2 separate regions of the Homo sapiens genome follow, and region 2 is linked to region 1. Evidence: fine-mapped expression QTL. A gene starts in region 1. The other region holds a variant in brackets. All regions are shown on one strand. Distances are from middle to middle.

Evidence for each region. PIP is the estimated chance that this variant, and not a neighbour inherited with it, causes the effect.
Region 2: its variant is the best candidate, but not a certain one, in a credible set for the expression of LINC00944 in whole blood (INTERVAL, PIP 0.83).

The regions. Positions count from the first base shown.
Region 1 is chr12:126,770,155-126,775,538 of GRCh38, reverse strand. It overlaps LINC00944 (long intergenic non-protein coding RNA 944), which reads left to right and starts at 3,277. Exons shown (of 5, transcript NR_033878.1): 1 at 3,277-3,460. RefSeq lists enhancers at 2,949-3,028, 2,504-3,703.
Region 2 is chr12:127,169,061-127,174,444 of GRCh38, reverse strand. The region is part of intron 1 of LOC105370062 (a long non-coding RNA gene); the gene reads left to right. Among named protein-coding and RNA genes, the nearest start is that of LINC02405, 110 kb to the right of the region's middle. The variant A/G (reference allele first, on the strand shown) is at 2,634.

The DNA.
Region 1 (5,384 bases):
TCACATGGACACATCATAAATGCTGGTTATTTCTATTTAAGTCTCTCCATAAAAAAGATGAGCTCATTCTGGTTGACTTAAGAAATACTGCAGCCAGGAACTTTGGGATGCCGAGGCAGGCGGATCACAAGGTCAGGAGTTCAAGACTAGATTGGCCAATATGGTGAAACCCCATCTCTACTAAAAATACAAAAATAATTAGCTGGGCATGGTGGAACATGCCTGAAATCCCAGCTACTTGGGAGGCTGGGGCAGGATAATTACTTGAGCCTGGGAGGCGGAGGTTGCAGTGAGCCGAGATCGCACCACTGCACTCCAGCCTGGGCAGAAAAGCAAGACTCCATCTCGGAAAAAAAAAAAAAAAGAAATACTTCAACAACCTCTGTCAATATACACAGTGAGCAGGCAGTCACATCTGGGAAACTATTATTTGGGGCTCTAGAGGTAAATGTTTATGCGTTTATCTGGGACTGGCGTTGGGATATTTTGATCGAGATGTTACTGTTTATTATTGATTTTCCTTAGAATATCCTATATATCTACAAGCAATTACATGGTTATGCACCCTTTTTTGCACCATTTTTACATAAGTAATACATACTATACATGCCATTCTAAATTTAGATTATTTGGTTTTGGACTTGAAGGGAAAGAAGAGCTCTGGAAGTTTTGACACTGGGATTTAAATGCTCAAGTCCAGAAGAGGGATGGTTGGCTTTTGCTAGCAAACCATTGGCCAGACATAGTCACAAGGTCATCTTTGGAATTAATGAGGCCAGCAAGTGAAAGTCTATCATGTCTACTGCTAGAAGAGGCAACTGGGGAGTAGGGAGGTCACAGAGGTATGAAGTGGAGGCATCAGGTTTCACCAGCTGCTCAGTGAGACACTGGATCCCAGGTGGGGCAGAGTCTACGTAGAACCCAGTCATTTATTCACTGACTTTCCATTCATTCATTCGGTGTCCCCAGCCTCGTGCATGACATAGTTGCACATCCAGTGGGAACATAAAAAAAGCAGAGTTATATAAGGACCCTCAAATTACTTTCAAAAACAGATCATTAGAATGTGAAACATTCCCCCCTCTTGTCTTTACAAGTTTGCACCACATGAGCCTTTTTAACTGAAGAATTTTAACTTTCTAGAAGACAGATTGGCCTATCCAAGAGAGAGCAATCACTACTGAGGTCATGGCCATATATTCATGCATTGGGGTTGCTGGTTGGCTGGGCTCTCAGGGGTGGTCAAGAGGTTCCCTTTATTCTGAACCCCCTGTAGGGCGTGCTAGTCTTCAATGGAGAAGTTGCAGCTGGGATCAGAGACCCTCCTGGCAATTGCATGATTCACATCTCAGCAATAACATCTTGATGCATAAAGAAGAACACTGTACTTACAATCCCCGGAGGCAGAGGAGTAGACACACAATTACATGGCAGGGGCTTAGTTCATGATTAGGATGGCAAAGATCAGGCCCGGGATGGGCTGGCTGTATAACGCTAAATCAAAGAGGGCTCAGATTTATGAAACCAATAAATAAATGAGGCCCCAGACATCTGTCTGGAGTTGCTTGGGGAAATTCATTGATTTCAGAAAAAGGTATATATTAATAGTTTAAAAACATAAGAATAAAAATCACAGAGTTCATATCTTCAGCCTGAATATTTCTTCCTACTTCAAGATTCCTCCATCCAACTACCAATACCTGTCTCCAGTTAGATATCTACTATGCATCTTTAAATTAATATGTCTGAAACTAAACTCCTGTGTGCCACCACCACAATCTGCATGAACGAACAGATGAATGAATGAATGAATGAATGAATGAATGAATGAATGACTTACCATGACCATCAGAATCAAGGCACCTTGGTATAATATCTCTTTCCTTCCTTACAGCTGAAAATTTAGCTCTTGTCTTTGAAGATTCACTTCTGCCTCTCTCTAGCCCTGAATTGGTCTCTCTAGCAACATGTGTCTCCCCTCTGAATTCCTGTATGGATTTCAGACTAATGGCAGCCAAACCAGTGCCTGCACCCTTCCAGATTGTTTCTTCTAATTTAGTCCTCTGCTGGTGGTCTCCATGCACTCTCCTTTGCATATTCATCTGCAGGTCATCTTCACACATTCTTATCAGCCTAGGAGTCTTCTGTGCAGTGGTCTCTTCCTGCCACATCTCCCCTCTCCCCAGGAGATTAGAATGGCAAAGCCACACTCTATGGGATCTCAAGAACCCAAGTGTGAGATTTGCTTTCAGTATTTAGCAGAATTGGTGTTTCTGGGGCGGCAATCTCCTCCTGGAGATGTGTTAATCATTTACAGAATAGCCTGGACTAGTGTATGGGCCCTGCCCTTAGAGCCAATGCCACATTTATTTTTATTTTGCGAGATCTGCACTGACATGAAAACCGAAAATTCTATTGACGTTTCCTGTTCAACCTAAAAGCTAAATCCAGTTCATCACTGAAATCCCACAATGCCCTGAGACAAATAGTGCTTTAAAATATGTGGTGATTTTTAGGTCAGGTGCGGTGTAATCCCACACCTGTAATCCCAGCACTTTGGGAGGCCGAGGCGGGTGGATCACGAGGTCAGGAGGTTGAGATCAGCCTGATCAATATGGTGAAACCCCATCTCTACTAAAAATACAAACATTAGCCAGCGCCTGTAATCCCAGCTACTCAGGAGGCTGAGGCAGAAGAATGGCACGAACCCGGGAGGCGGAGGCTGCAATGAGCCAAGGTCGCGCCATTGCATTCCAACCTGGGCAACAGAACGAGACTCCGTCTCTAAGAAAAAAAAAAAAAAAAAGTGGTGATTTTTTTAAAAAGGAGTGGTTCATTCAGTTAAATGGGAAGAGTTGTAATGAGGGACTAAGTGGCTAAGTTGGCTGGACTTCCTGGGTCAATAGGGACTTCCCTAAGGGGACTTTCCCCTAAGCCAAAATGAGTCATAGCTGAAAGCTAAGGGATGGAAACTTCAACCAATCAAAGGGGACTTTCCCCTAAGACAAACTGACTCATAGCTGCAAGCTAAGTGGTTGAAACTTGAACCAGTCATATAGGGAGTTTAAGCTCTAGCTTCAGCCTGATGTTTTTAACCAACTAGGCCCGCCAACCCACAAGCAGATAGAAAATAAGCTGATTCTATAGGACAGAAAAAGGAAGAGGGCAGGGGTCATAAGGGGATGTAAGCATAAGATACCCAAGCCAGAAACAGCAACCCTTCCAGGTCCCCTTCCCCCACGTGGAAGCTTTCCTTTCACTTTCGCTTTAATAAATCTTGCCGCAGCACACTCTCTAATCGAGCTGTAACACTCGCCACTGCCGTCCACGGCTTCATTCCTTGAAGCCGTGAGACCACGAACCCTTCGATTGAGAAGAACCTTCGGTCGGAAGAAGACTTCTCGTCTCAGTAACAATAACAAGAAAAACAGCCTAGACTAGACGCACATCAGGAAGACAGGTAGTAACAAAATATTTTGTTGTTTGTACTTTTAGTGTTGTCTCTAAGACAGCTTTGCCTAACCCAGGCAACAAAAATTTAATCCTATACTTTCATCTAAGAGTATTACAATTTTAACTCTTTAATTGAGGTCTGTGGATCATTTGGAGTTAATTTTTGTGTGTGGTGTAAGGAAGGGATCCAAAACATACTTGTCAGCAGCAGTTGTGGAAAAGACTATTTTTCCTATTTTTTTCCTCATTCAACTGTCTGGAATTTTTGTTGAATATCAATTGACTATAAATGTAACGGTACGTTTTACGGCTCTCAAGTCTATTCCACTGGTCTGTGTGTCATTTTTTTATACCAATACCACACTCTTTAATTATTGTGCCCGGGTAATGTCTGACATTGGAAAGTGTGAGTCCTCTAAATGTGTTATTTTTCTCAACTGTTTTGGATGTTCTAAGTCCCCTGTGTTTCAATATGAATTTTATGATAGGCTTCTCAATTTATACAACAAATCCAGCCAGAATTTTGATAGGGACCACATTGAATCTATAGATCAATTTGAGGAGTACTGCCATCTGAACAATATTGTCTTCCAATCCACAAACATGAATTTTTTTCCATTTATTTAAATCTTCTTTAATTCTTTTCAACAATGTTTTCTAGTGCTACATGCATAGGTTTTGCACTTCCTTTTAAGAATTTATTCCTAAATATCATATTATTTCTGAGTGCTATTATAAATATAATTACATATTTTCTTAAAATCATTTTTGGATTGCTTACTTTTAGCATATAGAATTTCAATTTATTTTTGTATATTGATCTTGTATCTTGAAACTTTGTCCAACTAATTATTAGTTTTAATAGGTTTTAAGTGGATTTCTTAAGATGTTCCATACACAAGGTCATATCATGTTTGAATATAAATAGACTTACTTCTTTATTTCCAAACTGGATGCTATTTATTTATTTTTCTGGCCTAATTATCTTGGATAATTTCAGGAAAATTTTGAATAGAAGTTATAAGAGTAGACATTCATGTCTTATTCCTGATCTTAAGAGAAAATAACTCAGTCTTTTACTATTAACTATAATGACAGCTGTGGAGTTTTTTGTAGATGTCCTTTACCTTCTATTTCCAATTTATTGAGTGGTTTTTTAAAAATGTATATGAAAAGGTGTTGGATTTTGTTAAATGCTTTTTCTGGGTATACTGAGATGGTTATGTGGTTTTTGTTATTTATTCTAATAATGTGGTATTTAGATGGGGGTCTTTAACTGCTGGCTGAAGACTCTCCAAAGCTTGTTTTCCTTCTTCCAGAGTGATCTATAGTATTCAATACAGTGGTTTTCATTTGTCCTGTGCATCTGATCATAATGAACAGAACCTCTCTACTGATCACTGAAGAACCTATAGCATGAGTGAGAAATAAACCTTATTGTTTCAAACCACTGAGGTTCTGAGGTTGTTTGTTAGGTAGGTGCCTTTAAAATATGTCCACAAATTTTTCTTTAACAAACCCTCCCTTATCATGTTAAGTCTATTTCCCCTCTCAGTGAGTGAGAGTCCAAATGAGTTACTCACAGAAGTAATTTACAAACAGAAGTAATAATATATGGTGATATGGTTTGGCTGTGTTCCCACCCAAATCTCATCTTGAATTCCCATGTGTTGTGGGAGAGATGCAGTGGGAGATAATTGAATCATGGGGGGAAATTTTTCCCATGCTGTTCTCCTGATAGTGAGTAAGTGTCATGAGATCTGACCGTTTTATAAAGAGGAGTTTCCCTGAAGAAGCTCTCTTTCTCTTTGCCTGCTGCCATGCACGTAAGACGTGACTTGCTCCTCCTTGCCTTCTGCCATGATTGTGAGGCTTCCCCAGCCATGTGGAAATGTAAGTCCAATTAAACTTCTCTCTTTTGTAAATTAGCT
Region 2 (5,384 bases), 400 kb before region 1:
ATGAGATGGAACTGAAAGCTCTGAAGAGACAGAGTGTCATGACACAATTTAATATTTAAAAGGATCTTTCTGGCCTAGGGCAGAAAGAACATCATAGAGACATACTAGGAAATTGTGATAAACATCCAGGAAAGGGTAGATCACAGTATGTGATATGGTTTGGATCTGTGTCCCTGCCCAAATCTTATGTTAAGTTGCAATCCCCAGTGTTGGAGGAGGGGCCTGGTGGGAGGTGATTGGGTCATGAGGGTGGATTTCCTTCTTGCTGTTCTCATGATAATGAGTAAGTTCTCAGATCTGGTTGTTTAAAAGTATGTAGCCCATCCCCCTTCACTCTCTTCCTCCTTCTCTGACCATGTAAGATGTGCCTGCTTCCCCTTCACCTTCCACCATGATTGTAAGTTTCCTGAGGTCTCCGCAGTCATGCTTTCTGTACAGCCTGCAGAACTGTGAGTCAATTAAACCCCTTTTATTTATAAATTACCCAGTCTCAGGTAGTTCTTTATAGCAATATGAGAATGGACTAATTCAGTGAGGAATAGGAAGCTGGCAGTGGACATAGAGATGTGTGGACTAATTTGCAATCTATCTTTGATGATTTTAATATCTTATTATATGTAAGGGAAGATTTAAAGCCTATTTAAAGTATACAAATTAAGATACAATTATTAACTTATTGCTTTGATATCACATGACGTTACTGGGCTTTGGAAGGTGAGCAGAGGCTGCCTGGTGACCTGCCTGCTGGGTAACCCATTGGTTTTGGTGGCACACAGCTGCAGAATGAAACCTGAACATCTGCGACCCTTAACAACCTCCATACTACCATCTCAGGTCCTGCAAAGTCTGTTCCTGGAGAGATTGCTTGGAGGAGCCCCAGCACGAACCCTACTGAAGATGTCAGCCACTTACGCACTAATGGTCATGCCAAAGGTGTTTTCTTATGATGTTCCTCAGCCGTGGACCACTGGGGTGCCAGAGTAGAACTGGGGATCCCTGCAGAAACAGAGTTATAAGCACTGGCCCCTCCCCACTCTAACCACAGTCACATCTGGGGTCCCTGGCAGCCAGTTCATCTCAGTTGATGGCATCTCTGTCCTTCCAGGTCAAAGCCTCTAACTCACTTTTGCCCCATTCATTTCTATCCAATCTGTCTATCCAATCTGTCAGGAAATCCTCTTGCCACCTCCTCCAAATATACACAGATTCTGACCACTTCTCACCGCCGCCCTGCTACTCCCGGTTCTCATCCACCATGGCCTTTCCCCTGGATTCTGCAGTGCACCCATGATGGTCTCCCTGCTTCAACCCTTGACCCCTTGATGAGTCAGGGTACTCCAGAGAAGCAGCACAGATAGGACAGGCCTAGATGCATCAAAGGAGATTTATTATGGGGATTAGCTCACAGTATTATGGAGGCTGAGAAGTCCCATGATCTGTGAGCTGAAGAATGAAGAAAGCAGATGCTTTGATTTAGTCTGAGTCTGAAAGTCTGGGAACCAGGAGAGCTCTGTTGTATTCCAGAGTCCAGAAGTCTGAAGGCCCAAAAACCAGGAACTCTGACATCCCAGCGCAGGAGAAGATGGATATCCCAGCTCAAAAAGAGAGAGAAGAGAACTCACTCTTCCTCTGCTATTTTGGTTTTTTTTAGGCTTTCAAAAAATTAGATGATGTTCACCCACATTGGTGAGGGTAAATCCTCTTAACTCAGCCCACCAACTCAAATGCTAATGTCTTCCAGAAACATCCTCCAGACACACCCAGAAATAATGTTTACCAGCTATCTGGGCACCCCTGAGCCCAGTCAAGTTGACAAATGTAGTTAACATATCATCCCCCATCCCCCCATGCACACTCAAGGGTGTGGCAGCAGCCAGGGGGCCCCTCCTAGAGAGAACATGAGGCAGTGCCATCCCATTACACTCAGAGTAAAGCTCAGTGTCATTTTACAGTGAGCCCTCCGTACCCACAGGTTTTGCATCTCAAATTCAAAAACGGTATTTGCTGGATGCAAAGATTGTAAATTTGGAGAGTGGATGTGAGCATCCCCAGATGTCAGTATCTGCTGGAGTTCCTGGAAGCAAGCTCTGGTAGATCCCAAGAGACTGTACCTCTCTCTCTCTCTCTCTTTTTTTTTTTTTTTTGAGACGGAGTCTTGCTCTGTCGCCAAGGCTGGAGTGCAGTGGCGGGATCTCGGCTCCGTATCTCTTTTAATATATTTCAAAGCTACACATGATCTCCTCCCAGGCCTTTTTGAGCATCTCTCCTCCTACTCTCTTCCTGACTGTGTTCTGCCCACACTGACTTCCCGGCCTGGCCTTTCTGGGAACACACTGGGCCTGCTCCCCACTCAGGGCCTGGGCAGTGTCCATTCCCTCTGCCAGGCACATGGTCTAGCTCAACAAGTCATTGCTCAAAAGTCATATCTGGCTGGGCGCCGTGACTCACGCCTGTGATCCCAGCTCTTTGGGAGGCCAAGGTGGGTGGATCACCTGAGGTCAGGTGTCCGAGACTAGCCTGGCCAACATAGTGAAACCCCGTCTCTACTAAAAATACAAACATTAGCCAGGCATGGTGGTGGGCACCTGTAATCCCAGCTACTCAGGAGGCTGAGGCAGGAGAATCGCTTGAAC[A/G]TGGGAGGCGGAGGTTCAGTGAGCTGAGATCGCAACACTGCACTCACTCCACTCTGGGTGACAAGAGTGAAACTCCATCAAAAAAAAAAAAAAAAGTCACATGTCCCATGGTTTACCCTCACAGCATGGTTTAAAATTGAAGCCACAGCCCTGCCCAGCCTGCATGCATTCTCAGTCGCCTTATTCTACTCTTTCCTTTGCTCCACAGTACGCATCTCTTTATAACAAGCCACATGATTATCTTCTCCTTTATTTCTGTTCTCCCTTTCTCCAGTCCTCAGAATAGAAACCCTACAAGTAGAGGAGGCTTTGTGTGTTTGGTCCCTGCCCTCTCGGAACTAACATTGCTGGAGAGGGAGAGATCACACACACACACACACACACACACACACACACACACACATCTATCACATGTGTATCATTTACAAGATGAGTAGAAATGATGGGATGTTTTTCTGGGGTTTAAGGCATATTATTTTCAACAGGATGGTTAGAGAAGATGCCACTGGGAGGGGACATTTGAGCAGATGCCTGCAGTTAAAGGGGAGGCTCTTTCAGATGTGAGGGAAGAACATTTCTGGCAGAGGCAACAGCAGGTGTGAGACGGGAACTTGTGCTGTCACAGTTATCGGTAGTGCCCTGCCCCACAGCTGCTGAGCCCACTTTCAAATCCATCCAGAGCTGTGGAGTTTCGATTCCATCCAGAGCCATGGAGGGCAGTTTCTTTGCACTCTGGAAGCTTCCTGGATCCTTGTACATCTTTGCCTGGGAGCTTTCTCCAGCCTTGCAGAAGATGCTCAGCCTGGTGCAAGATAGCTTGGAAATGCTGCCAAAAGCAACTCTCAGCCAAAGGGAGGGACGAGTCCTGGACAGACAGCCCAGTGTCTCTGTCCCACAGAGCATCTTTTCTGAGGCACATCATGCATCATTCCTTAGAAGGTTCCCAGTGGAATGTGGGCCCCAGCGACATAGGAGCAGACACCCTTTGACACATACCTGTTGACTTCCTCTTTCCCCCATCTCACTTCCCCCATTCTCTCACTTGTGATTTCTTGGGTCCACTTTCACCTCAACCTAAGTCCCTGTATCAGTGTCTGCTTTGGGAAGAATTCCAACTAAGACATATGCTAAGAATGAAGTAGCAACAACTGACTGCTCACCACAGATTGGAAAACAAAATAGAGTTGCCTAATCTCTTCTTTTCCGCTTGCCCTGGCTGGTGGTGGGGGGAGCTGCATTTGGGCAGAAAGGACCCAGAGACCAGACCCCTGGGGACAGGACAGGAACCAAGGGAGTCCCCGCAGGAGGAGTTGAGGGGCAGTGCCAGCCAGTGGGTGTCTATATGGTCCCTGTGTGGCATCAGAGCCTTGATGTTCAGACTGAGGTTCAGACCTGGGAGGAGAGAATGAGGGTCTGAGAAGAAGCCTAGACCTCGGGAAGCTGAAAGGGCAGGCAAGGAGCCCCTGCTCAAAGATGGTTGGAGGACCAGAGGATGGGGCTTGGCTGCAGGAAACAAGGCAGACATTCATTACGGGCACCATGGTGCAAAGTCAGAGATTCCCTCATTAACCTATTGATCTGATGCAAATGCATCCAACTCATCTAAAGCATGGGGCTAACAGTGTACTTTGCAAATTCTGGATACATATTTGCTAGGTGAATATGTAACTGTAGAGCAGCCAGGACAAGCCGCATTCAATGCTTTGCAGTGGTTGAAAGTGCAATTTATCATCTCATCACTCCACTCTTTTTATCTTTTTTTTTTCCAGAACTAGCAATAGCCAAGTCTCTGGTAATGCAAATTGGTATTAACTTTTTATTTCCTCAATATATCAGAAATTTAAGTAACTGCCATTCTTGTGTATTTATGCAGGGGCTTAGGTGCATGTATTATTCATCTGGAGATTTCTCTCTGTGTTCACGTGTCTACAGCTCCACATTCCTAAATGGAATTCAATGGAAGACAACTTAAGATCCATGCCTGCCCACAGGAATTTCACTAGTGTCAGCTTTTTTTTTTTTGAGATGGAGTTTCGCTCTTGTTGCCCAGACTGCAGTGTAATGGCACAATCTCAGCTCACCGCAACATCCGCCTCCCCGGTTCAAGCAATTCTCCTGCCTCAGCTTCCCAAGTAGCTGGGATTACAGGCATGCGCCATCACACCCTGCTAATTTTGCATTTTTAGTACAGACGGGGTTTCTCCATGTTGGTCAGGCTGGTCTTGAACTCACCACCTCATGTGATCCGCCCGCCTCGGCCTCCCAAAGTGCTGGGGAGATTCAGCGCTTTAAACATCCTCATTGACTGATGTTTGGCTCTCTGTGGAATAGTGTGCACGTGTTTGTGCAGGTGTGGGTGGAGGCTGAGTTACTCTGACCTTCTCATGCAGATATGCCCTTGTTCTCGGAGCAGGAAACGCCCATGGAAATTGAAGAAGCATTATCATCTCATGTGCTTTCCTCTCTCCTGCTCCCACTACTCACCAACTGAATGTAGGATGAGGAAGGCGTGAAAGTGTTAGAAAAACATTGTTTGGTTAAAAAGATCTTGACATCTGAAGGGGTATATCAACTTCAACTTCCATCTCCTGAGATGGTACCAAAAAAAAGATGGAACACAACTATTAAAACAAAGAACTTCAGATGGTTGCTTTTTACTGAAGTTGTCAGGAAATATAGCACTATCCAGACCATATTTCTTACTACCATATTTGTGACTGTTCCTAAAATTTCCACCAACACAGTCCCCCT